Homo sapiens: one gene and its partner. The protein of the gene in region 1 interacts with the protein of each later gene in a pairwise test. Each region holds a gene or a part of one and is shown on either strand. Other genes may lie near its edges. The genes, in order: HAUS2 and XRCC4.

Region 1 (16,050 bases):
GCTAGGAGAATTCACAAGACTCAGCATATCATCACACAGCTATGATTTATTACAGCAAAAGCATATGAAGCAAAACAGCAAAGAGAAAAGGTACAGAGGCAAAGTCTGGGGGAAACCAGGTATAAGCTTCCAGAGTCCTCTAACAGTGGAGTCACACATATCTGTTGTTTCATTCCACCAGCAACTGAATTGTGACAACATGTGAGAAATGTTGTTTACCAGGGAAACTTGTTAGAGATACAGTGCCCAGGGTTTTTACTGGGGGCTGGTCACGTAGGTACCTTCTACCTACCATGTACCAAAATTCTAGACTCCCAGGAAGAAAGCAGGTTTTCAGCACAAACCACAGGTTAGCTACCATGAACGACTCTTTTCAGTGAGTGGAGCCCTCCTGTTAAGGTTTAAATATGTCCCCCAAAGTTCAAGTGTTGGAAATTTAATTGACATTGTAAAAGTGTTATGAGACCTTTAAAAAGTAATTAGGTAAGGAGGGCTTTGCCCTCATTAATGAATTAGTGCTGCTATCTTGGGAGTGGGCTCATGATAAAAGGCTAAGTTTAGACCCATATATCTTTCTCATGCTCACTTGCCATGTGGTGCCTTCTGCCATGGCAAGACCCTCACTAGATGCTGGCACCATGTTCTTGGACTGCCTAGCCTCCACACCTGTCAACCAAATAAACTTCTGTTCATTATAAAATACTTAGTTTGTGTAATTCTGTTATGACAGCAGAACAGACTAAGATACCTTCTGATATCTAAGTTCCCAGATGCAACAGCTGAGGACAAACCTTATAATCAGGCCTTTCAAAGGATAAGTCAGGCTGGCTGTGTTACTCTTTTCTGCATACTTAGTGACATTCCCACAGGAATAATCATCATAGACATTTTCAGATTCAAGAAGACCCTTCTAATTCAGAAACACCTTTTTTTTTTTTTTTTAAGACAGAGTCTTGCTCTGTTGCCCAGGCTAGAGTGCGGTGGCACGATCTGGGCTCACTGCAACCTCTGCCTCCTGGGTTCAAGTGATTCTCCTGCCTCAGCCTCCTGAGTAGCTGGGATTACAGGCACATGCTACCATGCCTGGCTAATTTTTGTATTTTTTATTTTTTTGGAGATGGAGTCTTGCTCCATCACCCAGGTTGGAGTGCAGAGGCACGATCTTGGCTTACTGCAACCTCTGCCTCCTGGGTTCAAGCGATTATTCTGCCTCAGCCTCCCAAGTAGCTGGGATTACAGGCGTCCACCACCATGCCCGGTTAATTTTTTATATTTCTACCAGAGATGGGGTTTCACCATGTTGTCAAGGCTGGTCTCAAACTCCTGACCTCAGGTGATCCACCCATCTGGGTCGGCCTCCCAAAGTGTTGGGATTACAGGTGTGAGCCACTGCGCCCGGCCTAATTTTTGTATTTTTAGTAGAGACAGGTGTTTCGCCATGTTGGCCAGGCTGGTCTCGAACTCCTGACCTCATGATCTGCCCACCTAGGCCTCCCAAAGTGCTGGGATTACAGGCGTGAGCCACCGTGCCTGGCCAGAAACACACTTCTTTTTTTTGAGACAGGGTCTTACTGTGTCGCCCAGGCTGTAGCGCAGTGGCGTGATCATGACTCATTGCAACCATGACCTCACAGGCTTAGGTGATCCTCTTACCTCAGCCTCCCGAATAGCTGGGACTACAGGCATGCACCACCATGGTCGGCTAATTTTTTGTTTATTTTGTAGATATGGGATTTCACCATGTTACCCAGGCTGGTCTTGAACTCCTGGGTTTAAGTGATCTGCCCGCCTCAGCCTCCCCAAGTGTTAGGATTACAGGTGTGAGCCACCACACCAGACGATAAACACACATTTTTAAAAAAAGAGAATTTCCCACCTGAGAAATGGTTAATTCACTTATATTAATAAATTGTCATGGCTATTTTTTAGCTTCTCTAGTTTTACTGAAAGGTAGAATAAAAATATATGAAAAACAAAGGAAAAGTCAGTTTGGTCTTAATGAACCTGAGATCTTGATACTCCAATATAAAGCAGGTTCTTTCAGTATTACCAGCAGCAAAGACTATTAATACCCATGTTACAGTCAACTAGAAATAGACTTCATATGACTACACATAATTAAGCAAAAATAAAGTTGATGACTACTTGGCATTAATAGTTTGGACATGAACTTTAGAAGTAAAAGGTAAAGGAGGCATTATAATATCATGTTTATAAAGATAACTTTCTTCAGCTAATATTTTGGGGATACAAGACGAAACTTCGTTTTGTTGTTTACGCCACTTGAGTATATTCTCTGCCAGTTCTTCTGTCTCAGTCACCAATATATCCATCTTTGCTAAAGCCTGGTTCTGTAACATTTGAAAAGGGAAACAGGAGAAATTATGTCTCTTATTAATTCATTATATCATCAGTAACTGATACCAAAGGTTAACACATGATCTTTTTCCAGCCCCTTACTTCAAAAGCTCCTTAAAACTGTGCTTTCCCACTTCTTACAGTACAAACCTACTCTTTGTGAGTTCAACTCTTTTGTCTTCAATAATCACTCAATGCAGATGACCCTCAATTTATATTGCTAAACCTAACTTCCTTCCTAAAATTCAGGCCCACATTTAAGACTACTGGTAATCTCTATCTGGATGTACCTTCAATATCTCAAACTCAGTCTAACTACAGTTCAAAAATGATTGACCATTTACTACATGTGCAAGATGTGTCAAAAAATAAACTTACTAACCTCTTTTTTTTTTTTTTGAGATGGTGTCTCACTCTGTTGCCAGACTGGAGTGCAGTGGCGCAATCTCAGCTCACTGCAACCTCCGTCTCCTGGGTTCAAGCGATTCTTCTGCCTCATCCTCCCAGGTAGGTGGGACTACAGGCACGTGCCACCACGCCCAGCTAATTTTTTGTATTTTTAGTAGAGACGGGGTTTCACCATGTTAGCCAGGATGGTCGTGATCTCCTCACCTCGTGATCCACCCACCTCAGCCTCCCAAAGTGCTGGGATTACAGGTGTGAGCCATTGCGCCCAGCCCACTTACTAACTTCTTTAACCCACACTTGATACTACTCACCTTCAAGTCACCCAGACTAGAAACTTCATTATTTTTGATGTGTCCCTTGTCCAATTCATAGCCAAGTTCTAAAAATGTGACCTCCAAAATCTAAAAAAATTATCTTCTGTATTCCTATGCTTTAAATCTTTTATCTGAATGACGGTAATTAGTCTCCAGGTTTTTCTGCCTTTGGTTTCTCTGCCTAGTCTTCTAATCCAGAGCTGATCAAACTTTAATGTGCACAGGAATCACCTGAGGAACTTGTTAAAACGTAGATTCTGATTCTGAAGTTCTAGGGTGCATGATGTCTGTAGTTTTGTATTTATAACAAGCTTCCAAGTGATGTTGATACTCTCTGCCCATACTCAAGAGTAGCAAGGCTCAGTCTGCTCTATCCAATATTTTCTCCATGATTAAGGCAGTTCTAATCAAGTCACTCCTCTGCACCCTTCACTAAAAAAAGAAAACACACACACACACACACACACACACACACACACACACACACACATTCAATGGCTCCCCAATACTCAGACAGTAAAGTCTAAGGTTATTAGTCTGGTTTTTAAGGCACTGCATAAACTAACCCTGAGCTAATCTCCTCAATACCTTTACGCATCAGCCAAAGTGGAGTATCACTTTTCCCCCATACTCTCTGGGTTCTTTGACTTTTATGTCTTTCCTCACATTGCTCCTTTTGGCCAAACTATTCTTTCTGATGCATGTCCGAATTTCACTTATTCCTTAAGATTCAGCTTACTTTGGCAAGTGCGGTGGCTCAGGCCTTTAATCCCAACACTTTGGGAGGCTGAGGCAGGTGGATCACCTGAGGTCAGGAGTTGGAGACCAGCCTGGCCAACATGGCAAAACCCCGTCTCTACTAAAAATACAAACTATTAGCCAGGTGTGGTGGTGGGCACCTGTAATCCCAGCTACTTGGGAGGCTGAGGCAGGAGAATCGCTTGAACCCAAGAGGCGGAGGTTGCACTGAGCCGAGATTGTGCCATTGCACTCCAGCCTGGGCAACAAGAGTGAAACTCCATATCAGAAAATAAATAAATAAATAAAGATTCAGCTTACTGCTAACACCTAAATAAATCTTTATTGCAAAGCTGGACATGGTGGCTCATGCCTGTGATCTCAGCACTTTAAGAGGCCGAGGCGGGTGCCTCACTTGAGCTTAGGAGTTCGAAACCAGCCTAGGTAACATAGTGAGAACTCGTCTCTATTTAAAAAACAAAACAAAAACTTTATTGAAGTCTTCCTATCCCTATCCTACTCAGAATCCTCCTAAACTGGAAGTAATTCCTCCCTTTTCTATGCTCAATAGATGGCATCTCTTTGTAATTCTTTGCTGCATTTATTATGCAAATATAATCCTATAAGTAGAAAATGTATATTTTACAGCTGTCTCACCAAACGTTGAGAATTTGAAGGCAGGGATTGGTCATATCTATCTTTCACAATACATGTAGCATAGCCACGGCACAATGAAGCCAACACATGTTTATTAAATGTTGGAATAAAATAATTTAAAATGGCTTCTAAATAAAAATTATATAAAAAAGAAAATGTTAAATCCAAGGTCTAAATAAATAAACACTTCTTCTTCTTTTTTTTTTTTTTTTTTAATGGGAGATGGAGTCTTGCTGTCGCCCAGGATGGAGTGCACTGGCACGATCTCAGCTCACTGCAACTTCTGCCTCCCAGGTTCAAGCAGTTCTCCTGCCTCAGCCTCCCGGGTAGCTGGAATTACAGGCACGCACCACCATGCCCAGCTAATTTTTGTATTTTCAGTAGAGATGGAGTTTCACCATGTTGGCCAGGCTGGTCTCCAACTCCTGACCTCAAGTGATCCACCCGTTGTGGCCTCCCAAAGTGCAGGGATTACAGGTGTGAACTACCATGCCAGGCCAAGAAAATACTTCTTGATTTAAAAATTAACTAGCTCGTAATATTAGCTATTAAAAAGCTAAACTGGGAGAGCACACCTCTAAGTTTCTAGTAAAAAATAACTGAAGATTGCTATATTAATACTCACCATTTTCTTTAGATTTGCAGCTAAATGAGGAATATTTCTAATTGTTTCAAGGTGGGTTTCTAATCTCTCAATGAAAGTCACAGCCAACTCCAGCAAATGTACCATATATCTGAAAGAGAAAGAAAAAAGTCAACCATTTTTTAAAGTTTAATTGTTTTACGTTCCTTTTCTTCTCCTTTAATCAGGACTTTTAATTTGAGATAAGAATTACAATCAACCTAGAGAGCCAATAACAACCTTCCTGCATTCATAGAAATATTAGTGATTAAAAAAAGGTCCTTCTCTTTCACTTTAAGCAACTTGTCATCCAAATAAAAAAATGGAAAGAGACAACAGTAATCCTATCTGGAATCCAACTTAATGTTAGAGAAACCTCAATGTTAATCATTTTCTCCCTAGATAAAAAAACCCCATTCCATTTTCTTTTCTTTTTTTTTTTTTTTTTTTGAGATGGAGTCTTGCTATGTCACCAGGCTGGAGCACAGTGGTGCAATCTCGGCTCACTGAAACCTCTGCCTCCTGGGTTCAAGCAATTCTCTTGCCTCAGCCTCCCAAGTAGCTGGGATTACAGGCGCCCACCACCACGCCTGGCTAATTTTTGTATTTTTAGCAGAAGGGGTTCATTATGTTGGCCAGGATGGTCTCGATCTCCTGACCTTGTGATCCACCAGCCTTGGCCTCCCAAAGTGCTGGGATTACAGGCATGAGCCACCTTGCCCAGCCCCATTTCTTTTTTTTTTTTTTTGAGACAGAGTCTGACTCTGTTGCCCAGGCTGGAGTGCAGTGGCACAATCTCGGCTCACTGTAATCTCTGCCTCCTGGGTTCAAGTGATTCTTGTGCCTCAGCCTCCTGAGTAGCTGAGATCACAGGCGTGCACCACTATATTCAGTTAATTTTTGTATTTTTAGTAGACACAGGGTTTTGTCATGTTGGCCAAGCTGGTCTCAAACTCCCAGCTGGCCTCAAGTGATCAACCCATCTTGGCCTCCCAAATTACCGGGATTACAGGCGTGAGCCATGACGCCTGGCCTCATTCCATTTCAACTTACTCATTCTCTGTGAAGAATGAAGACAATAAGGATAAATGTACTTAACTGAAATAGCCTACATAGAAAGCTACTTTGAATCTCTGCACTTGCAAAAATGCTTTCAAATCATTGCCTAGTTCTTAGATGTAGTACAATATATACATTAAGGGTAATGATAATGTACTAAACAGATACTGAATATAGCCACAAGAAAGGGGTTTTGTTTTCTGTTTTGAGACAGAGTCTCACCCTGTTGCCCAGGCTGGAGTGCAGTGGCACAATCTCAGGTCATTGCAACCTCTGCCTCCTGGGTTCAAGTGATTTTCCTGCCTCAGCCTCACCAGTAGCTGGTATTACAGGCATGTGCCACCATGCCCAGCATATTTCGTATGTTTTGGTAGAGATGGGGTTTCACCATGTTGGCCAGGCTGGTCTTGAACTCCTGGCCTCAAGTGATCAGCCACCTCGGCCTCCCAAAGTGTTGGGATTACAGGCATGAGCCACTGTGCCCAGCCTTGTTTTGTTTTTTTGGAAGAATAAGTTTTTGTATATCTATTATTTTCCTACAAAATAAAAAATCTGACACTTAAGATACTGATTTGCTTAAGCTAGTGAGGCACTGGCGGAGAAAGTTAGCAATGAGATCCCCAGATGCTTGCTTCGTATTTATTTGAGACAGGGTCTCACTCTGTCACCCAGGCTAGTGCAATCACAGCTCACTGCAGACTTGACCTCCTGGGCTCAGGTCACCCTCCCAGCTCAGGAATACAGGTGTGTTCCATCATGTGTTGCTAATTTTTATATTTTTTTTTTTTGTAGAAACAGGGTTTTGCCATGTTGTCCAGGCTAGTATTTATCATTAGTCATAATCTACATCTTCAATTTGATACTTGTAATACTCTGTGAGGAAGAGGGCAATAGAACTCATCTCTATTCTATTTATTGGGAAACTAAGGCAAAAATGTAAATCATTTGCTCAAGGCTTTGAGGCATATAAACAGTAGAGATGAGAACAGAATCCAGGTTTTTTCCTCCCTTAGTTGATAGTGTTTTCATCTGCCCCAGTTAAACCCCGCCAATAGAATTTTTACATATAGGCAACATTAACTCAACAATGAATGTACTTTACAACAATGAATTTACTTCACATACAAACAGTTTTTATTGTTACATGTTATGGATCTAATTTCTTTCATTAAACTCATAATTTATAATTCCCAAAACACGATGGCCAAGTTCTTCCTTTTTGCCATAGGTATAATGGTTTAAAAGCAAAGATTTTCTTTCTGATTTAATATATCACCATTAATAATGTTAACAAATACAATCACTAATTGTTTTATGAATTCTGCTACAAAGTAACTGCAAAACAAAAAGTAAACTCAGAAAACAGGTGTAACTGTTAATTTCTACTTTTCAGTCTAACCTGTGATAAACAGCTTCAATAGGTAAGTTTTCCTGGCACATGGGTTTCAACAGTCTTTGCCTAAGGGATCTCTTCTCTTTCAGCACTGCTTCCAAATGATTATTCATGCTTTGCAGAGTATGACACTTCTGAGCTATACAAATTAAAAAACAGTAATTATAGTTAGCAATAGGACAAATAACAGAATAATTTCTTCTTTGCCTTGGTTTGACACTACCCATGTCAAAAATTCATCCTATCATTACCCTCCTGTCTCCTTTTTGCTGTCTTTAATACCAATACCAATTTCATTTTCAACAACTTTCTCTTAGTCGGTTTTTGTATATCTAATATATTTCTATTATCTCTTTTCCTAGTGATAACCAAATCTAGTGCTAAATTCTTTCTCTGTGTTTCTCATCTCTACTTCTTATTCAGTTCTTATAGCCAGAGCTATATTCTTAACACAAAGTCTTTTTTCCTATCCCTGACTCTAATAGTCTATAAAAGACCATCGAAAAAGAGTCACCTTAGCTGGTGCTCTAGCTCATACCTGTAATCGCAGTGTTTTGGGAGACTGAAACGGGAGAATTGAGGCCATGAGTTCGAGACCAGCCTGGGCAACATAGCAAGACTTCATCTCTACAAAAAAATTGAAAAAACAAAAATTAGCTGGGCATGGTGGCACATGCCAGTAGTCCTAGCTACTTGAGAGAATCAGTTGAAACCACGTGTTGAAGTTACAGCGACCTGTACTTCAGCCTGGGTTACAGAGTGACACACTCTTAAAAAAAAAAAAAAAAGTCATCCTACAAGCTATTTCTGATTATCTCATTATTTTCCCCATTCAGTTAATGGCTGCCAATTGACCTTTCTTTAAAATTCTTCTTTGGAAAAATTCAGATTTGCAGAAAAGTTTCAAAAAAAGCTTGGTGAACTCACACATACATTTTACTTATTCACCGATTATTAACATTTGGCTACATTTTCTTTTTATCTTCTTTCTCTCTCTTCTCTCTCTCTCTCTCTCTCTCTCTAATTTTTGCTGATCCACTTTAGAGTAAGCTGCAGACAGCATGATATTTTTTACCTGTAAAACGTTAGCATGTATTTCCCAAGAAGAGGAACATTCTCCTATATAACTACAGCACATTATCAAATTCAAAAAATAACATTAATACAATACTACCAATATTTAATACAGTCCATATTTAAACATCACTAAGTATCCCAATAATGTCCTTTACAGCAAAAAGAATTTTAATTTTTGAGACAGGGTCTCACTCTGTCACCCAGGCTGGAGTGGAGTGCTACGATCACAACTCATTGCAGCCTCGACCTCCCAGGCTCAAACAATCCTTCTGCCTCAGCCTTTCATGTAACTGGCACTACAGGTACATGCTACAATGCTGGCTAGTTTTTGTATTTTTTTTGTAGAGATAGGGTTTCACCATGTTGGCTGGTCTTGAACTCCCGGGCTCAAGCAATCCACCCACCTTGGCCTCCCAAAGTGCTGGGTTTACAGGCGTGACTCTCCACGCCTGGCCACAAGAACATTTTCTCATCAAATATTCAAAACATTGCCAGCCATGGTGGTATGTACCTGTGATCCCAGCTACTTGGGAGGGTGATTTGGGAGGACTGCTTGAGCCATTCAGGACTACCCTAGGCAACATAGGAAGACCCCATCTCATTAAAATAAAAAATCGATCCATGATCATACAGTGCTTTAGTTGTCATGTCCCTTTAGTCTCTTTTAATCTGAAAAGTTCCTCAGACTTTGTCTTTCAAGTTCTCCTGACTTTGAAGAGCCAATTTGGTGACTTTTTATGCTATTTGTACTACTCAAGCCAACAGAACTTCTATTTCAGCATAGAAATACAAGATTTCATTAGCTTTGGGACAACACCTGGAAAAATGATGGTGTATCATAATTTGACTGACTGGTGCTTATTTACAGTAATCCAAGAAAAAGTTGAAATTCCAGTGATTATCCACTTAACCAAACCACTTACCCAAAAAGAAAGGATGAACAACATCTGCTGTATCTTTTTCTAGTTTCAGGAGTTCAATTTCCAGGTTTTTCTACATGAGGAACAAAAGTAACATTTAGCTCAATCAGAAAGTGTCCATGGCCAGGTGCGGTGGCTCACTCCTGTAATCCCAGCACTTTGGGAGGCTGAGGCAGGTGGATCACCAGAGGTCAGGATGTAGTGAGCCGAGATTGTGCCACTGCACTCCAGTATGGGTGACAGAGTGAGACTCTGTCTCAAAAAAAAAAAAAAAAGAGTCCAGGGGATTTACTGAAGTTTTTCATTTTGCTGTTCTTGCCCTGCTGCTGCTACTCTTACTACTATTACTGTAACTACTATTAGTAAGTAAACATGTAGCTAGCTAGTTATGTGCTAGACACTGTTCTAAGTTCAAAGGAATTGCTGTTTGAACCAATAAAGTTTTTTTGTTTTTGAGACAGGGTCTCCGTCTGTCACCCAGGCTGGAGTGCAATGGCCCAAACATGGCTCACTGCAGCCCCGATTTCCTAGGCTCAAGTGATCCTCCCAGCTCAGCCTCCCAAGTAGCTGGGACTACAGGTGTGTGCCACCATGTCTGGTTACTTTTAAAATTTTTTGTAGAGACGGGATCTCCCTGTGTTGCCCACACTGGTCTCAAACTCCTGGGCTCAAGCAGTCCTCCCACCTTGGCCTCCCAAAGTGCGAGGATTATAGGTGTGAGCCACTACATCTGGCCAACTTTTGTTTTTGTTTTCCTATACTAGGAGTAGAAAGTGAAAAGTTCAGGCCGGGCGCAGTGGCTCACACCTGTAATCCCAGCACTTTGGGAGGCCGAGGCGGGCAGATCATGGGGTCAGGAGATCGAGACCATCCTGGCTAACATGGTGAAACCCCATCTCTACTAAAAGTACAAAAAATTAGCCGGGCATGGTGGCGGGCGCCTGTAGTCCCACCTACTCATGAGGCTGAGGCAGAAGAACGGCGTGAACCTGGGAGGCGGAGTTTGCAGTGAGCCGAGATTGTGCCACTGCACTCCAGCCTCCAGCCTGCGTGACAGAGCAAGACTCCGTCTCAAAAAAAAAAAAAAAAAAAAAAAAGAAAGTGAAAACAAAATGATTTACCTGGTAGATTTCAGCTTGAATATTTGTGATCTGCTGTAGTCTGGTGAAGTTCACAAAACAAGAAACTGTTTTCTTAGACATGTTTAACATCTCCTATTGGTAAATGAATAAGGAAAGTAGCAGAATGTCACAAAAAGTTTCTAGGTACATTGGAATAGCATGCCCATAGTCTAAAATATGAGAAAATATTATGTTCAACACTGCCTTTGAACATGAAGTACAAAGTAAAATAGTAGCAATGTGTAATTCCTGTTTTAGAACCTTCACCATCACAAATCACTTGCTCAAATATTTAAAAAAAAAATAAGAGAAACAAACAACACACTCCCTTTGTATTATTTCCTAAGGTACCATACAAAATAGATTTGTATTACTGATAGTTTATCAAAGGATTCAAAGGCTAAATTTGTTGGAGAATCACCTCTACCTTTCCAAATGACTCAGGCCCAGTCTCTCAGAGCTTCCGGGGTTGAAATCAAATATTTTCGCCTTCATGGAATTATTTATCTGATTCGTTAAATGACCTCAGTTGCCTACAAGTCATTCATACTGTGTATGTTCACATTCTCATCTTTTAGTTAAAGGATTATTTGTATCCAGGCATAATTATTCTTTTAAAAAGGTTACCCCTTCTTTTTCATCCTTTCATTCCATGAGTCCATGCACATTATCTCAGAATTGAGTATTATCTTGTGCATTCCTAGACTTCATCCATAATTTTCTCTATCATCTTGCTTTCTAGAATGCTAGCACAGCAAAGAACTTCATATATATATAATATATACATTATATACAATGTATATATTATATATAATATACATTATATACAATGTATATATTATATATAATATACATTATATACAATGTATACATTATATAATGTATATATAAAATATATATTATATATAAAATATATAATATATATAAAATATATATTATATATAAAATATATATTATATATAATATATATATTTTTAAATGGAGTCTCACTCTGTCGCACAGGTTGGAGTGCAGTGGTGCAATCTCGGCTCACTGCAAGCTCTGCCTCCTGGGTTCATGCCATTCTCCTGCCTCAGCCTCCCGAGTAGCTGGGACTACAGGCGCCCACCACCATGCCCGGCTAATTTTTTTGTATTTTTTAGTAGAGACGGGGTTTCACTGTGTTAGCCAGGATGGTCTCGATCTCCTGACCTCATGATCTGCCCACCTAGGCCTCCCAAAATGCTGCGATTACAGGCGTGAGCCACCGACTGAGTTTCGCTCTTGTCACCCAGGCTGGAGCACAATGGCAACATCTCTGCTCACTGCAACCTCTGCCTCTTGCATTCAACTGATTCTCCTGCCTTAGCTTCCCAAATAGCTGGGATTACAGCTTCCCAAGTAGCTGGGAGTTTTTGGGATTACTGCCACCATGCCCAGCTAATTTTTTTTTTTTTTTTTGTATTTTTAGTACAGTTGGGGTTTCACCATGTTGGCCTGGCTGGTCTAGAACTGCTGACCTCAGGTGATCCACCCGCCTCAGCCTCCCAGAGTGCCCAGATTACAGGCGTGAGCCACCGCGTCCAGGCCAAAGAACTTTAGAGATCAGATAGGCCAGGGACTGGAAAACTATAGTCCATGAAATAAATGCAGCCCATTACCTGTTTTTGTACAGCCTGTGAACCAGGCATGGTTTTTATATTTTCAAATTGTTGGGAAAAAGAAAATCAAAGACAATATTTTATAACAGGCTGGGCACAGTGGCTCATGCCCGTAATCCCGAACTTTGGAGGCCGAGGTGGGTAGATCATTTGAGGTCAGGAGTTCAAGACCAGCCTGGACAACATGGTGAAACCCCGTCTCTACTAAAAATACAAAAATTAGCCAGGCAGGAGTGGTGCACACCTGTAATCCCAGCTACTCGGGAGGCTGAGGCAGGAGAATTGCTTGAGCTTAGGAGACAAGGTTGTGGTGAGCTGAGATTGCCACTGCACTCTAGTCTGGGCGACAGAGTGAGACCCTGTCTCAAAAAAAAAAAAAAAAAAAAAAAGCCTGGGCGCAGTGGCTCACACCTGTAATCCCAACATTTTGGGAGGCCATGGCAAGTGGATTACCTGAGGTCAGGAGTTTGAGACCAGCCTGGCCAACATGGTGAAACTCTGTCTCTATTCAAAAAAAAAAAAAAAAAATTAGCCAGGCGTGGTGGCAGGCGCCTGTAATCCCAGCTAGTCAGCTAGTTTGGGAGGCTGAGGCAGGAGAATTGCTTGAACCTGGGAGGCAGAGGTTGCAGTGAGCCGAGATCGCGCCACTGCACTCCAGCCTGGGTGACAGAGCGAAACTCCGTCTTAAAAAAGAAAAGAAAATGATCTGAAATTCAAATTTCATGGTCCAGAAATAAAGTTTTATTGGAACATGACTTCTCTCATCCATTTACACACTATCTCTGGCTGCTTTTATACAACCACCTAGTTGTGTAGCTGCAACCATATGGCCCACAAAGCCTTACATATTTACTCTCTGGCTCTTCATAGTAAAAGTTTACTGTCCAAAAATAATCAATTTTATGAACACTTACTGAGTTAGTCAACGAAATATTCAAATATGAGTGAAACAAGCTCTCTACCCTCATGAGGCTCATAATGGATGGGAAGAAAAAGGTATTCTAGATAGAAAGATCAAAAACATTACAAATGCTCAATAACCACCAGTGTTAGCATATATGTGAAAAGAGGGGTAAGATGTAGCTGAAAACATAGTCTCCAACATAATCATAGATGATCCTGAGTGCTATGCTCAACAATCATACTGCAGAAAATGGGAGCAACTGAACATTTTCTGGTGAAGAAGTAATATAATCATACATAATACTTATTTAGAAATACAGGCTGGCATGATGGCTCACACCTGTAATCCCAGCACTCTGGAAGGCTAAAGCAGGAGAACTGCTTGAGCCCAGGAGTTTGAGACCAGCCTGCACAACACAGGGAGACCCTGTCTCTACAAAAAATTAAAAAAATTAGCCAGGCAGCCGGGCGCCGTGGCTCACGGCTGTAATCCCAGCACTTTGGGAGGCCGAGGTGGGCAGATCACGAGGTCAGGAGATCGAGACCATCCTGGCCAACATGGTGAAACCCCATCTCTACTAATAATACAAAAATTAGCTGGGTGTGGTGGCGTGCCTGTAGTCCCAGCTACTCGGGAGGCTGTGACAGGAGAATCGCTTGAACCCAGGAGGCGAAGGTTGCAGTGAGCAGAGATCACGCCATTGCACTCCAGCCTGATGACAGAGAGAGACTCTGTCTCAAAAAAAAAAAAAATTAGCCAGGCATGGTGACATGTGCCTATAGTCCCAGCTACTTGGGAGGCTGGGGTGGGAAGATCCCTTGAGCCTGGGAGATTGAGGCTGTAGTGAGCTGTGATCATGCTACTGCAACTCCAGCCTGGGCAACAGAGTGAGACCCTGTCTCAGCGGCGGCGGGGAAGGTGGGGATATTTAACTGGGGCAGTATGAAAAATAAAACTGGCTGGGCGTGGTGGCTCACACCTGTAATCCCAGCACTTTGGGAGGCCGAGGGGGTAGATCACCTGAGATCAGAAGTTGGAGACCAGCCTGGCCAACATGGTGAAACCCTGTCTCTACTAAAAATACAAAAATCAGCCAGGCATGATGACATATGCCTGTAATCCCAGCTACTAGGGAGGCTGAGATGGGAGAATCACTTGAGCCCAGGAGGCTGAGGCTGCAGTAAGCTGTGAGCGCACTACTGCACTCCAGCCTGAACAACACAGAGAGACTCTCTCTTAAAAAAAAAAAAATACACCTACAAAACAAACAAAATAAAAACACTAATGAAGAGGGAGGAGGGAATAGGGAATAGTACAGAGTTTACATCTGGAGTGATAAAGATGTTTTTGAAAATAGTTGCACAATATTGAGTATAGTAAATGCCACTGAAGTGTACATTTTAAGACAGTTAAAATAGTAAATTTTATGTTATATGTATTTTACCACAATAAAAAAAAAAGAAGGAAAACCCTGGTAACTAGCTAACATAAAGAAAAAACACTAGTGGAGAAATAGACTGGAGAGGTTGGATATTTAAACAGGTGGCTGCTACAGTATTCCAGGTAAGGATGAGAATGTGGACTAGGTCAGTAACAGTTAAAAAGGAAAGGAAGAAAAGATGGGAGTTCCTGCAAAGATGGAATTGACAAATCTTAGTTGATATGGTAAGGGATAAAATCCAGTTAATACTCTAAGGATTTTGCTTCAGGTGAGTGGACAGAGTTATGCCATTCACTGAAGTAGATAACACAAGATATTTTACTGATGGCAAAATTGAGGAACAGGAAAGTATTACTCCAACTTCACACTGCCAGTGTGTGCCAAGATGGAAGTGAGAACACATCTAATCCACTGCCCTTCCATCATATCAGCTGACCCTTTTTTCTTTGTTTCTCTCAGGAGGTAAATGAAAGTAAAATATTTTCTACAATTTATCACATTGTAACCAACCTGTTCACTGGTATATCTCCCTCTCTCCATGCTTACACACTAATCTTAGTTGTACATCTGGCAAACTAGTAAACTGTCGGGTTCAACAATAGAGTAATGGTGCTTAGCTAAGAACATGCAAGAGAAACCAGAGGAAAAATAAGAATGTTTAAGAAGCAGATAACAAAAAAGGAGAGAAGAAAGAAAGAGGGTCAGGTGCAGTGGCTCTCACCTGTAATCCCTGCACTTAGGGAGGTGGAGGCTTATTTTCCATAATAAATAGGAAGTACAACTATTTGAGGATTGAGACTTAGTTTAACACATTTAAAAAAAAAAAGAAAAAAGTATCAGGGATTGGGGAATACAGAAAAGTCTTTTCCTTTAGCTATTGTTACTATATATTGCTATTACATGCCCCAAAGGGCAAAAGAACCCTGAAAATGAAAGGATCCTGAGAAAAAGGAGTCTATTCAGGGTATTTCTGTTTATTCCGTGGCTAGGCACAAGAAGAAGCTCAAATCCAGAACCTTTATACTTAATATAAAAATCCTGGCCTGTAATCCCAGCACTTTGGGAGGCCGAGGCAGGTGGATCATGAGGTCAGGAGTTCGAGAACTGCCTGACCAACATGGTGAAACCCCGTCTCTACTAAAAATACAAAAATTAGCCGGGCGTGGTGGTATGTGCCTGTAATCTCAGCTACTTGGGAGGCTGAGGCAGGAGCATTGCTTGAACCCGGGAGGCGGAGGTTGTGGTGAGCTGAGATCGTGCCATTGCACTCCACCCTGGGCAGTAAGAGCGAAACTCCATCTCAAAAAAAAAAAAAAAAAATCCTGGTAACATTATATACCATATATGTATGTATAAACTTGTAATTGGTGGGCACTCTTTCTTCTTTTTCCTATCCCT
Region 2 (16,050 bases), on another chromosome or scaffold:
AGTGCTTTTATGAATACTGAAAACTGTATACTCACCATAAGTACATTTAATTGTTTGTAAATTATCCCTAAACAAATTTAAAAAAAAACTGATTTGGTATTCATAAAACAGCGGCCTGAATTCTATCCTAGCTTAGCTTACTACCTGTTTTCCTTAGCAACTCACTTATACTTTCAGCATGTATTGCTTCATGTATAAACAGTGACAATACCAAGTGCGCTTGATGAAGTATGAGATTGCATGCTGAAGTAGATTAACTGAAAATAAGCAAATATTAATATTGTTAAATTGAAATGTCCTTTTACAACATAGTTTTTACAATGCTATTTTCTACTTCTGGTTTTTTATTTTGTTTGTTTGTTTTTGTTTCTGTTATTGTTTTTTTTTTTTTTTTTGTGAGACAAGGTCTCACTCTGTCTCTGTCACCCAGGCTGGACAGGCTGCAGTGCACTGGCACAACCTTAGCTTATCTCACTGCAGCCTCAAACTCCCCAGCTAAAGTTATTCTCCCACCTCAGCCTCCTAAGTAGCTGGGACTACAGGCATGTCCCACCATGCCCAGCTAATTTACTTTTTTCTTTTTGGTAGAGAGAAGGGTCCCACTATATTGTCCAGGCTGGTCTTGAACTCCTGGCCTCAAGTGATCCTCCCACATTGGCCTTCCAAAGTGCTGGGATTACAGGCATGAGCCACTATGCCATGCCTACTTCTGCTCTGTTCTTATGCTAAGTTGTTCCTTTTCTGAACAAAAAAGTTAAGATATAATGACTTTAAAATATTTATTATTGAAGCAAACATTTTAAATAAAGGCAGAAAAATATGAAGCAAGAAAGAAAATGGGTCCACAAACAAAAAACAGTATAACTAAACACTGATATTTTTGTTTTTCAAATTATAAAATTTAATATATGGCTTAGCTAGAAAACGTATACTTTTAATGGGATTTCTTCACCACTTACATTACTTAGTCCTCACATTCCAAAAAGATCACAAAAATTATATAGTGTTCAGTATCAAAATGGCACATGTACACAAATACTTTTATCACCAAAATAAAGAATACTATGATTTCCTTTTCAGGCATTCAAACAACACATCTGCAACCCATATTCCCACAGACCTGAAAGTCATTACTATTTTTGACAAAATCTTTGGCAGAATACACAATAAATGCTACAATTCTGATATTTCATCTGGAAATAGCCCTTTGAATTCAGAGTCCCTGAAACCACAGGGACACATGGCAATAATATAGGATTTTGGACTGCTGTTTTTAAAAAGAACTCTGGATGTTTATTTTGGCAAACTGGTTTTACCTCATTTTCATATATTTGAGAAACGTCAATTAAATAATGGTGGGAAGGCTGTCTGAAACTTAGAATGGATTTTCCACTAAAAAATAAATAAAACTTCTAAAATATAGTAAGATACAGAGTAGGATACTTACTTTATCCTTTAAAGTATACTTACTTTATGTTGTAACATTTCTTAAATTGAAATATGACTGAAACCCTTATTTGTAATGAAATGCTAAACAAACATCCTTGCAACAAAAACAGCAAAGCCTTCTGAATGATATTTCAATCTTCCCTGCATGTTAAATGCATAGATTGCTAGTTGACCATTGATATCCATCTTCCAGTTTTTACACAGTAATGAAAACTTCTGTGCACAAGACACAGCTGAAGATCACATTTCACAGATTCCCTTGCAGCTAGGTGAAGCCATGTGACTACATTCTGGCCAATGGGACGTGAGCAAAAGGAATGTATCAAATTTGGGAGTGACTGTCTTAAAGAAAAAGCACATATTATTTCCTGTCTCTTTAACTGGGTCCTGCTGCCTCAAAGGTGAACATAATAGTAAAACTAGACAAGTCATCTTGGACTATGAAATAAAAACTACCTGTTAAAAATTACAAAGTAGACTGTTGGGCACACTGACTCATGCCTGTAATCCAGTGCTTTGGGAGACTGAGGTAGGAGGTTCTTGTGAGCCTAAGTGTCAGAGGTTACAGTGAGCTATGATCACATCACTGTACTCCAGACTAGGCAAAAAAGTGTGACCCTGTCTCAATTAAAGAAAAAAAAAAAAGCCAAGGGAACATGATCAAAGAAGCCTGTGTCTCCAATATCATAAAGCCATTATATTAACCCAGGTTTGCCTATTTGGATTTTTATATCACTGAAAAATAAACCTCTATGCTATTTAAGTAGTAGGGGAAATGAGGGTAAAGAAATAGAAGTAGACTTTGCATTAATTCTACTAGAGACTTGTAGCAAATTCTAGAGTTTTAGATATTCACTATATACATATGTGTGTGTGTGTGTGTGTGTGTGTGTGTGTGTGGAGATGTATATACATACACATATATATATGTATTAAATCATGTTTAATTTTTCTTCAAACCTCATAGCTTCCTTCACTGGGGAACAACAAAAATACATGAACACAGGGAGGGGCACAATGCATACTGGGGCTGGTCAGGGGGTCCAGGCAAGGGGAGAGCACCAGGAAAAATAGTTAATGCATGCTGGGCTTACTACCTAAGTGATGGCTTCATAAGTGCAGCAAACCACCATGGCACACGTCTACCTATGTAACAAACCTACACATCCTGCACATGTATCCCAGAACTTAAAATAAAATTAAATTAATTTTTTTAAAAAGACATATCCTTATAGCCAAAATGTTTATATATACATACATATACATACATACACACACACACACACACACACACACACACACACACACACACATATATATGTAGCTCTACAATATGTTAGCTAAGCTGGAATTAATCTAAGAAATCACTTAAAAATTGCACAGATGAAAAAACAGAATCATGAGGAAATTAGGGTTAAATGACTAGCCCAAGGTTATTCTTATCAAAAATAATTGTTTTTCTTTGACTCATAAATGAATATTTTTCTAAAGAAACAGAGTGAGATATGAAAGCAAAAAAGGAAGATGAATACATTATTCATTAAGATGCATTGTTAGCATGACAAAGTCTGTATGGCAAAATCAGGATAAATTGTTAAAGGTAGAGGGAAAACAGTGGCCCAAAGCACACAAATGATCTCTTGTGTGAGTGACAGTCCTTGTGCTGAAGAGATGAGGAGTTCCAAATGCTGGCACTATAGTATGCTTTCAACCAGAACAATCTACTGTTAAATGAAGAGCACTAAGGCAGGAAGGGTCACATGGGTTCGCACTCTATGGAGAAAAGAAATTAGTGTGTAGCTGTTCGCCCAACATTTATTCAAATGAGAATGAAGTTAAAATAAAAGGATCTATGTTATCTATAAAGAAAAGCCAATTAAAGCCTAAGGGAAGTTTTGGGAGGATAAGCTCAAAAGCAATCTCATGAAAATTGCTGACCCACTGCTCCCAAAACATGAGTATAAATATTGACAAACAAGCTAAAAATTTTAAATATTTCACTACATTAGAAATTGGTAATTCTGGCTGGGCACAGTGACTCATGCCTATAATCCCAGCACTTTGGGAGGCCGAGGCAGGCAGATCACTTGAGGTCAGGAGTTCGAGACCAGCCTGGCCCATATGGCACAACCCCGTCTCTACTAAAAATACAAAAATCAGCTGGGCATGGTGACATGCACCTGTAATCCCAGCTACTCAGGAGACTGAGGCAGGAGAATCACTTGAACCTGGGAGGCAGAGGTTGCAGTGAGCTGAGATTGCACCATTGCACTCCAGCCTGGGTGACAGAGTGAGGCTCCATCTCAAAAAAAAAAAAAAAAAAAAAAAAAAAAAAAGAGAGAGAGAAACTGGTAATTCTTTCACTCAGACAAAACATAAGACAGGATTTTCAAAATATCAGGTATTTTTGAATACTAAAATAGTGGTTACTTCCTTTTAAGAAAAAAAGAAAGTTTGTTATAAATGTAAATTTCAAACAATTCTTATATAAGTTAGATATTCAAAATGTTCAAATTGCACAGTGAACACACAATTAGATACACAAAATTTCTTGAACTGATGGCAATAAATGCCTAAAACCCTGACTCCCAGAGGTATGCATCTGGGAGCAAGTCTTTGTCACGGAGGAGCAACCTTACATTAAGAAACAACAGAATTCACAACTTTTTTAGTTGAATTTATGTTCATTCTTTTCCTTTCTTCTAAGTTTAGGAGGTCATTTTTGGCAACAATCAGATGTTTGTATCATCAAGAAAAGGATTACAAACTCCTTCTCAATTTTTAGGTCATCCAAGCAAAATTAGCTTTAAAAAAGTATTCTGTCTGCCATGTTTCCCATTGTCTGCAGATTTTTTTTGCCAGCAGATGAATCTACAAGACATTGTCACTCTGAAATCAGTCTGCAGAAGCACATCCTGAATACTGGAAGACTCCCATGACACCTTGGCCAAATGAACTTGTGATCTCTCAGCTGCATCCATCCACTGAAAGTTTTACCTCATCTAAATATCCAAAATATCTCTCAAGCCAAGCCATGAATAAACTCCTCCTTGTCAAGCCGTTCTGAGAATATTCTTTTCTTTCTCATAAACAAATAAATAAATGAATAAATAAGGAGACAGATATTTAGACTGCAATGTAGTGCTTTAAGACATTCTCTGGGGAACCAGCACACTTTTTGCATTGCTGGTAATCTTTCAGGCTGCTTCCATTACTTGTGAACATTTGTTGAAAAGGTAGTACCTGTAGTTCAAGATGCTGGCTCTGATAAAGTTGTTTACTTTCAGGGTGGTAAGCAAAAATCTTTCAGGATTATTATGAGTCTTTGATGTTGATATATGCCAAACCAACTGTAGAAGACATGAATCAAGAGGACTTAAAGCTCTTTCTTCATAGAAAGGGTAAAACCTGATGTACTGCCAGTCATGGCAAGTACTCCATCCAGGCTGATATGGTTTGGCTGTGTCCCCACCCAAATCTCATCTTGTTTTTTTGTTTGTTTGTTTGTTTGTTTTTTGAGACAGAGTTTCACACTTGTTGCCCAGGCTGAAGTGCAATGGTGTGATCTTGGCTTACCGCAACCTCTGCCTTCCGGGTTCAAGCCATTCTCCTGCCTCAGCCTCCCAAGTAGCTGGAATTACAGGTATGCGCCACCATGCACAGCTAATTTTGTATTCTTAGTAGAGACGGGGTTTCTCCATGTTGGTCAGCCTGGTCTGGAACTCCCAACCTCAGGTGATCCGCCCATCTCAGCCTCCCAAAGTGCTGGGAGGCACCCGGCCTAAATCTCATCTTGAATTGTAGATCCCATAATTCCCACATGTTGTAAGACAAACATGGTGGGAGGTAATCGAATCATGGGGGTGGGTCTTTCCTGTGCTGTTCTCATGAAAGTGAATAAGTCTCATGAGATCTAAAGGTTTTATAAAGGGGAGCTCCCCTGCACATGCTCTCTTGCCTGCCACCATGTAAGACGTAACTTTGTTCCTCCTTCTCTTTCTGCCATGATTATGAGGCCTCCCCAGCCATGTGGAACTGTGAATCATTTAAACCTCTTTCCTTTATAAACTACCCAGCCTCGGGTATGTCTTTATTAGCAGTGTAAGAACAGACTAATACAGTAAATTGGTACCGGTAGACTGGAGTGCTGCTATAAAGGTACCCGAAAATGTGAAAGAAACTTCGGAACTGGGTAACAGGCAGAGACTGGAACAGTTTGGAGGGCTCAAAAGAAGACAGGAAAATGTGGGAAAGTTTGGAACTTCCTAGAGACTTGAGGGCTCAGAAGACAGGAAGATGTGAAAAAGTTTGGAATTTCCTAGAGAATTGTTGAATGGCTTGGAACAAAATGCTAATACAGACAACGAAGTCCAGGCTTAGGTGGTCTCAGATGGACATGAGGAACTTGTTGGGAACTAAAGGTCACTCTTGCTATGCAAAGAGACTGGGGGCATTTTGCCCCTTCCCCAGAGATCTGTGGAACTTTCAACTTGAGAGAAATGACTTAGGGTATCTAGCAGAAGAAATTTCTAAGCAGCAAAGCATTCAACAGGAAGCAGACCATAAAAGTTTGGAAAATTTGCAGCCTGACGATGCAATAAAAAAGAAAAGCCCATATTTGGGGGAAAAATTCAAGCCTGCTGCATAAATTTGCATAAGTAATAAGGAGCCAAATGTTAATCACCAAGACAATGGGGGAAATGTCTCCGAGGCATGTCAGAGATGTTCACAGGAGCCCCTCCCATTATAGGCTCCAGAGGCCTAGGCGGTAAAAACAGTTTCCTGGGCCAGGTCCAGGCCCCCATTGCAGCGTGCAGCCTAGGGACTTGGTTCCCTGCATCCCAGTCACTCCAGCAGTCGCTAAAACAGGCAAAGGTACAGATCGGGCCTTGCTTCAGAGGGTACAAGTCCCAAGTCTTGGCAGCTTCCATATGGTGTTGAGCCTGCGAGTGCACAGAAGCCAAGAATTGAGGTTTGGGAACCTCTGCCTAGATTTCAGATGATGTATAGAAATGTCTGCGCTGGGTGCGGTGGCTCACGCCTGTAATCCCAGCACTTTGGGGGGCTGAGGCGGGCGGATCACGAGGTCAGGAGATTGAGACCATCTTGGCTAACATGGTGAAACCCCGTCTCTACTAAAAATACAAAAAATTAGCTGGGCATGGTGGCGGACGCCTATAGTCCCAGCTACCTGGGAGGCTGAGGCAGGAGAATGGCATGAACCCAGGAGGCGGAGCTTGCAGTGAGTGGAGATGGAGATCACGCCATTGCACTCCAACCTGGGTGACACAGCGAGACTCCGTCTCAAAAAAAAAAAAAAAGAAAGAAATGTTTGGATGTCCAGGCAGAAGTTTGCTGCAGGGGCAGGGCCCTCATGAAGAACCTCTGCTAGGGCAGTATAGAAGGGAAATGTGGGGTTGGAGCCCCTATACAGAGTCCCCACTGGGGCACTGCCTAGTGAAGCTATAAGATTAGGGCCACTTTCCTGCAGACCCCAGAATGGTAGATCCACCGACAGCTTGCACTGTGCCCCTGGGAAAGCCACAGACACTCAATGCCAGCCCATGAAAGCAGCCAGGAAGGGAGCTGTACCCTGCAAAGCCACAGGGGTGGAGCTGCTCAAGGTTGTGGGAGTCCGCCTCTTGCATTAGCATCACCTGGATGTGAGATATGGAGTCAAAGGAGATCATTTTGGAACTTTAAGGTTTCATGACTGCCCTATTGGATTTCGAACTTGCATGGCGCCTGTAGCCTCTTTGTTTTGGCCAATTTCTCCCATTTGAAATGGGTATGTTTACCCAATGCCTGTACCCTCATTGTATCTGGGAAGTAACTAACTTGTTTATGATTTTACAAGCTCATAGGTAGAAGGAACTTGCCTTGTCTCAGATGAGACTTTGGACTGTGGACTTGTGAGTTAATGCTGAAATGAGTTAAGACTCTGGGGGACTCTTGGGAAGGAATGATTGGTTTTGAAATGTGAGGACATGAGATTTGGGAGGGGCTGGGCGGAATGATATGGTTTGGCTGTGTCTCCACCCAAATCTCATCTTCAATTGTAGTTCTCATAATTCCCAAGTGTTATGAGAGGGACCCAGCGGGAGGTAACTGAATCCTGAATGAGGGGTCTTTCCTGTGTTGTTCTCATGATAGTGAATAAGTCTCATGAGATCTAATGATTTTATAAAGGGGAGTTCCCCTGCACATGTTCTTTTGCCTGCCACCATGTAAGATGTGACTTTGCTCCTCTTTTGCTTTCCACCATGATTGTGAGGCCTCCCCAGCCATATGGAACTGTGAGTCAATTAAATCTTTTTCCTTTATAAATTACCCAGCCTTGGGTATGTCTTTATTAGCAGTGTGAGAACAGATTAATATACATGCCAACTGTACCAAGCCCCGTCTTTTAGCATGTCAAAAATTTCAAAAGCCTTTCAGCCTTCTAAAATGTACCTCACTAATTTGGAATTTATTATGTATCAATATGTGTGAAACAGATAAAAACTAGAAAATCGCTGCACAAAATAATGCTAGTTGTTACATGCAAATGTTTAGTGAATGGGAAATGGCATTAATCCCAATTTGGCAATGATCTGCTTCAAAACATTAGAAGAGTCTGCACTTCTGTAACATATAATATCATCCGATTGAGCTTGGGCCACAGGAAAGAACACTTACAATAAATAACAAAATTGTAGTAGCTAGTTCCAACCTTCTTACTGAACCTATTTTAAATTACCATTTTAAGAAATTCAGCATATTGAAACTTATATAAATTGGCAGCTAATTAGAAAAAGTATGTTTATTTTAAATATAAATTACTAAGGGTAGTTTCTCTGCATTATTCCCTACACGATAATATAAATTTATAATGACTCCATTTGTTTCTACAAATGTTTATCTAATTAATGAAATCTCTTTAATTATTCCAAATTTAAAAGGTTGATTTAAAAGAATTTCCTAAACTCAGTTGAGCACTAAAACAAATTCTCAATACATTTCTGTTAACTTAATGTAGCAAACATTTCCTTCCCTCTCCTTCAGAAATGATAGATCTCATATATGACTGAAAACCACTGGTTAAAAAAACAAATTCAGTATCTATTAAACTTAGGTAAAATATACAAATAATTAGTGCCAGACTTTAATAAATAAACCACCTGCCTTGATCTGAATTGGTGCAGGAACTGAGCAGAATAAGTAGCAGATACTCTTGTTTGCAAAGCTTAGGCTTCAAGTTATTTCTATTTTAATATTTTTAAATCTGACAATATAAAGTATCCTTAATACTTACTATGCATTTTTCAATTTCAAATATACTCTAGTAAAGTAGAAAATAAGTCATAATTATTCTATATTCAAAGATATATTTTGATTGATTTTATTTCTTAAAATCAATATTTCACAAAACTTTTTTCAATAAGACCTGTCACGATGGCCTAAAACTTCTGATCTCACCTTTTTCAAGATTATTCTTTTGTATAATTAACTCTGTAATACTTTAAAATTTTTCAAGCATTAAAAACTAAACACATTTTCCAATATTTATTTTTCATGATTCATTAATATATTTAATGACTTTAGCTTTGAAGTATTCTTCTAATTTGGAAACCAAGTACTTTTCAAGCTTTTGCTTCTGAGGTGTTCTGGGAATAATATAGTAGTCACTTAAATTTAAATATAATTCCTCAATAAATGCTCTGACATTTTACTATGTAACATTTTGGAAAGTTTTACTTACTGAGACATCTTTCAGGTTTTTCTCAAAGAAGAAATAACAAGACTCTTTAGAAAAATTAAACGTGTATACATCAGCTGGTCCTGCTCCTGACAACAATGCTTTTCTCAGTTCACCAACATATTTCCCTTTTTCCATTGCCATGTCATCAGCTTCTTGGGAAATCTCTGATTCAGAAACTATGGGAAATATTAACAAAAGTTTTAAAATGAAAAGTAAATGACTACACATGAGAAAATATTAGTTTATCTGTTAGTACTAATTTATCACATGTAACAGAAATTCAAACAAGTAAAATCAATCCCTATACTACACATTTTTAAATCAAATTATTCCTTTTTACTGAACTAGCAATTTTTGAGAAATGCATTAATTTAGACTCACATCTCGTAAAATACATTAAACCCTTGACATTCTTTCTCTGTCTTCAGATGAAACGCATTGTAAATTATTACAGAAACTCCCACTTTGTGTAACTGCTCTTAGGTCAAAGCCAGATAATTTCCTACAATGAATAATAAGTTCAGTATTTTATAACATCTTTCTTCCTTGCATCAAAGATTCAATAGCCTATACTGTGTTTCTCACTCATATGGGCAGAGTAAAACAAAAGCAAAAGTGGAGCTCACTATTCTCATATCATGTGCCAACAACAGAAAATATGGATGAAAGGAGATGATAAGGAAATAATAGGAAGGAAACTAAAATGTACGAGCATCTCCTCTGCAACACATACTATACTAGAGACCGCTTCCAATTCTCTTATCTAGGTATTTTTAAAGCTGATGTTTTACTATCATTGAGATTTTTGTTTCAATAATTATATTTTCAATTCTAGATATTATCTTTGTTCCTTTGTCATTATATCCTGTTCTTATCCTACCCTTCTTTTAAATATTTAAATAAACGTATTTTAAGATCTCTTTCATTTCTGTATTTATGTGTGGCTCCTGGGGTATAAATTATGTTTCTTCTATCTGTGGAAAAATTCTTGTTTTACTTGTTTTCCTTTCATGCTTTGTAACATTTGAGTACAGCTCACCTCTAGCCAAAGTGGCAAGTGCTCTGGGAAGAAGTGGTCTTAAATGAAGGTTGCCTTTCTGGGGGTCATTACAAGTTTTATCAGTTTGGGACTAGTTTTGAAAGTTAATTTCTCACCTCGATTTTTACATTTGAGGCAAAGTGTTCCATTTTAAACCTCCCATCCACACATAACACAGGTTTAGGGTTCTGATTTTTCTTGAGACTTTTATTCACTCATAGTCCTTAGGGATTGTTCTGTTTTTATGCTGCATCCTCTGGACAGAGAGTAGTAGTTTTTTTAAAAGATTATTTTATTAACAGCATATATTTTCCAGGTTCCTTTCTTTATGCTGAGAGCTCAACTCCAATTCCCTAAGAGGTCTGAAGCCTCAACATTCTACCTCACTCAAACATTATACTCACTGTCATCTAGAAGTATATCTAGTTCAGATATTCCATGAATCTACAAGTAAGCTTTAATTCTCATCAATTACTTTGGTTTTGAAATACCTCTTCAAACATGGTGTCTGAGGTTTTCCCTTTCTTACACTCAAAAGTGGCAATGGGTCTGCATACTTGTTTGTTTTTAAAATTACAAGATTCAATCTCGTTATTTGTTGGAATGTGTGTGTGGTTGGATGGTTTCCTGTGTTAATTTAGGCTATCACAGTAATGATAAAAGTCTCATATGGTTGTATAATTTCATACTTATGCATTACACTTATCTATTTTAATTCCTTATAAAACTGAAAAACAGATATTATTTTCATTTTGCAAAAGAGAAAACTGAGGCTCACAGAGATCAAGTAATGGTCTAGGGTGATGAAGTAAGTAACTAGTGAAGCTGGGATTAATACTCATATCTCTCTGCATGTTTTATTTTGAGGTGAAGCAGAGACATGAAACATTGGATAAATTATTTCCATCCATAATTTTGAAAAACAACATTAGTATAAAATATTACAGAATATAAGGAAATCATGATTAAAGAATCCCTAAAATGGAACACACATTTTCATACCTTTGGTCTCTATGCTATCAAGTGTCTGGAAGACCCATGACAGTTAATGAAAAAGGGAGTCTTGCAAGGTACCAATATTTTTATATGATCAATTTTTGATAACAAGTTTTGATAATAAAATATGATTCTCATACGTCACACAACCTTTGGAAGGAGGTAAGAATAAAAATAGCTTATATTCATATATTAACAGCTTCTAAAACACTTTCACATTTTCTCTATTGGAAGTGGACACATTTAATATGATCATCACTATCAAACCTATTGATCTTTCAAATGCCCTAGTAGCTCTTCTAAAAAAAAAAAAAGAAGAAGATAAATGCTTCCTATTTAAGGAATAATTTCATATTTTGTGTTTGCATTATGTTAAAAAGTAACTATCTAACTTTAACTCACCAATACCTAGGAAGAACAGTTATTTCACAGAGAAATAGGAAATAAATTTGTAGATGCCATCTTTAATGCGGCCATAGAAAAACTTGAAGAAAACACAAAAGAAAACAGAGAACATCTATTTAAAAAGCATCTAGTTAAAAGTATTCTAAATTTCATTAAAATGAAAAGATACCTGTCTGAAAATATGTAATCATTCATTCATTCCAAAAATGCTAGCCTGTGGAGCTCAAATTCAAGTGCTAATATCTTAGACAACATTTTAGATATCTGTCAGTTATCATCCTAGATATCCTCTTATTTTCCTCTCCTAATAAATACTGTGCTGATTATTACGGAATATTTAATTTTTGAAGGAGAAAAAAACGTATGAAAGGAAATTAATTATGTAAAACAGCTATTTGTTCAAAAATGTACTTGAAAAATTCCTATAAAAGTAAACATGGAAATCTGACTGCCTACATAGGGCTTCAATCCTAAAAAACCAACCTGGTCACCAGTTTTGAATTCTGTGCCAAGAACATCTGGAAAAAGTATAGCTGTAAGCACGCGATGCTCTAAAACTTCAGTGACCAAGAATAAAGGCAATGGAAATAATAAAATTCAGCAAGAATGCAACTGAACCACATAATAAGGCATAAAACATGAGCAGCCCAACATGACCAAAAAACAAGGAACTGGTAGAAGTCAGACTGAGACTCACTTTAACACTGAAAAGCATCACTTTTGCAGTGTTTATAGGTAGATGAAGATGTAAGTGAGGAAAGAAGATTTTTTTCCTTCAGATACCTATATATAACTAGCCAAAAGCCTGCACACATCCTAAGCTTGTACTGGAGCTCAGAAGACATACAGTCTTATCATACCATTAGGATTCTAGTTGGTATTGCATCATAAACCCATTTCACTGCTTGATTTATTAAAATCCTCTTTCCACTGAGTTCTGTCACTATTTCCATATAAGTCAAAAAATATTTACACTCAAGATAATTATAAGTGGATCTAATTAGTGGATAATAGAACAATTAGTAAAGTTTAATTTACTCTTTAATAAACTTCAAACTACTCCAGAGATGGGTGATATAAGTTTCCTACTGCCAATAGGAATTCTTATGAAAGTCAGAGTCATCGATCATTAACCCACTTTGTGACTTACCCCTGTGATATAACCGCCTGTAATACTGATGTGATGATAGACCACATGATAATTAGATAATTGGACCTCAAAAACATTCATTAGATAAAACATTGCTAATGGAAATCAGTGAGTTTAGTGTAGGGGAGATTAAAAGAAAACTTACATCCTTTTAATTTCACTCAAATAAAAAGAGAAAAAAAATTGTCCAAATTGAAGGTTGCAGTAATCAAAATGTTGAACAAAAAAAAACAGGATGAGGTATCGGAAGGAAATCCGTTTCCATGTTTCAATTATTTAATTGTTTCAATGTCCTTAGTGATGTTATTGTCTACATGTAAAGTACCAGATCACATTTATGGAATAAGCCTTAACTAAACATGGGCACAGTGTTATATTATTTGATTTCCTATTTTGTCCCTGATATGTAAACAAGAAAACAGAAATGAATGAAGGCATAAAACACATGAGAGATTTAAACACTATTAGATATTTTTGAAAATAAAATGACCACATAGTGCACTATAAAATTTTCTGTTTTAAAGCTTGTTTGGTACAGGAAACCAAAATGGTAACAATCCACCTGAGAATACATAAGTTTGATATCACATTTTTGTCACATTAAATTCCACTAGCTAAAAAATAAATGGTAGAATATACTGCAGTTATGACAAATGTCAACAATAAGTAAATATAAAACTGGAGTTTTCATTCAAAAACATGCTAACTCTAAAATGAACAATTTATTTTCTTTTTTCGCAGACCAGTTTTATATATTTGAGACATCCTTTCATTCTTTCAATCAAAAAAGTATTCATTGAGAATGTATTTCGTAGGTACCGGTCTAGATAATTGCAAAGAGTGTTGACAAACCAAATGTGTCTCTTACCCTCAGTATAAATCAGTACCATCTAGTGAAATGATAATTCATGTTAATATTATTAAGAATGATGCCAGCACAATTGTATGATATAAACGAAATGTTCCATAAATGTAAGGTTCTTACATTTCTGGTTAAATTAAGAGATAAGAGTTAATGGAGTGTTCTTTTTTCCCCCAATACTTAATGATTAAAAAATTTCAAATAACATATTATCACTGATTTTTATCTTGGTGAATGAGGCTTATGGACTAGATTAGAATTCAGCCTCTTCCTTTGATAATTAAGGCTCCTGAAACACCTTAAGGTCATCTGTCTGACAACAACTAAGTATACAGAATACGCCATTTGCCAATTAGAAATACCTAAAGTTATAAATACAGTATTCCTTACATACAAGCAACCACTTCCCCTAGGACTTGCTTCCAAGCTGTGTTGTTAGAACTGCTCTTCTTACCCAGATGACCAGCATTAATCTATTGCCCTTGTCTTTAGCCTTATACACTCTTCACCCTAAAACAAGAAATATTGTCTTCTGGATATAATCTCTCTGGCATACATAAAACCAAGCTGACAAATCTTCTACTCTTGAACTGCAACAACCAATCTGATTTCTGCTTTCTCTTACAGATAAATGTGTAGCTTAAATAGATATCATAATAAGTACTGCAAATATTACCCCTGAAAATTCTTTATTTTACAGGAATCCCTACATCAACATTACCTGTTCTGTGTCAAAAAAGACAATTTTTTTGAAACTCTGTAAGTATAAATTCAATTTGACTGTGTTGTATAACATAATTCATAACGCTCAAGAAAGAAACAAAATTTTACAATGTATTGTAATTTTAAAGACGATATAATAATCATGGTAACAAATTCTAGAGAAATATTTCTAAAGTTAATAGAAGATATAAATAGTATGTAAATTAACATGTAAAAATTATCTTACAGAAAACATTATTCACAACATAACTCTAGAAAAGACTTTTGCATAATTATAAAAATAGTTCTTTAAATCTTTCAATAAGATACTTTAGAAGAGTATTAAAACTTCGTATATAAGGAAAATATAAGGCTACATATTTTTACTTTATATCCACCATGTTCCATACATGATTTGAGGGTCATTAGCATTTTTAAAATATTATTACCAAAGAGTTAAAAAAATCTATTTCCTAAAATCACAGCCAAGATCCTAAATGTGGGTGTGAACCTTGCATTACAAATTTTTAGACTCTGGTCCTGTTTTGTTACAAATGTAATATATGTTCACTGGGGAAAATAAATAAATAAATAACCCACCACTACCCCATTGCCCCAAGGCAACACACATACCCATTTACCTAACCAATCTCCTTCCTCTGCCCCAGACTTCTTCCCTGGGGTCCTGAGAAAAGATGTATTTAGAAAGTACTATTTATATTTTCTATAAAGAGGTCATTTTAAACCTCTGAACAAATCCAAGTTACTAAGATTCAAATGGTAACCGGAATTTTCTAGGACACGTTTGTTTTTCTATTACTATTAAATATAGAAAGTGGCATTAAATATTACAAACCTGTGTATAAATTTGACAGCAATAGCAAGTAAAATTAATATCAGTTTTACCCAATATCTAATGGAAAAGTATCCCTGAGGACTGAAGAATAGCACACTTAAATTTTACTTATAAAAACTTTGTTTTTAGTATTACCTGTCCCAGTCCATGCTGAATGACCATCAGTAAGTGTAATAACAAAACCAGATTCCAGTGTTTTCTCCCAAGATACTTGTAGAAAATGAGTTATACTGGGTTCAGAAACAAGGTGGATTCTGCTTATTTTTCTCTCCATTTCTTAATACCTGTAATGGGAGAATACAATTAATATTTTTAAAAGAAACTGTAACTCAAATAATGTTTTCTGTACTGGCCTCTCAGCTACACAAACACCAAGGAAATAAGAAAATAAGCAAAACAAAAAAACTGTATAATAGGTTCAACCATTAGATTCAACCATTAAATTCAGTAAATAATACATTCAGTAAATTCACAGTTTTCTTCAATATTAATTCACAATTTTTACAGATGAGAAAAGCAGAGGCCCATAAATGGAAAATGATTTGTCCAAGTAATGAAGATAAAAATTATCATCTCAGCTGGGCGCGGTGTCTCACACCGGTAATCCCAGCACTTTGGGAGGCCAAGACGGGCAGATTGCCTGAGGTCAGGAGTTCAAGACCAGTCTGGCCAACATGGTGAAACCCCGTCTCTACTAAAAAAAAACAAAAAATTATCATCTCAACAATATGCTGAGTAAATTTTACCACTTCTTTTCCCCCAGATTCAATAGGCTTTTTTTCTACCACAAAAGAAATGGTTGCAAGAACTTGTGAGAATGACCTGGAACTGATCTCACTACTGAAATATT

The links.
Region 2: the proteins of HAUS2 (region 1) and XRCC4 interact in binary tests that used the Homo sapiens proteins (3 or more experiments, as listed by UniProt).

Annotation. Positions count from the first base shown.
Region 1 is NC_000015.10:42,552,908-42,568,957, reverse strand, and holds part of HAUS2 (HAUS augmin-like complex subunit 2), read right to left. Parts: intron 10,761-16,050; coding exon 10,668-10,760; intron 9,620-10,667; coding exon 9,550-9,619; intron 8,177-9,549; coding exon of another isoform or gene 8,088-8,176; intron 7,689-8,087; coding exon 7,556-7,688; exon of another isoform or gene 7,268-7,555; intron 5,210-7,267; coding exon 5,101-5,209; intron 2,352-5,100; coding exon 2,142-2,351; 3' UTR 1-2,141.
Region 2 is NC_000005.10:83,104,344-83,120,393, reverse strand, and holds part of XRCC4 (DNA repair protein XRCC4), read right to left. Parts: intron 15,485-16,050; 5' UTR 15,475-15,484; coding exon 15,336-15,474; intron 9,367-15,335; coding exon 9,191-9,366; intron 1-9,190.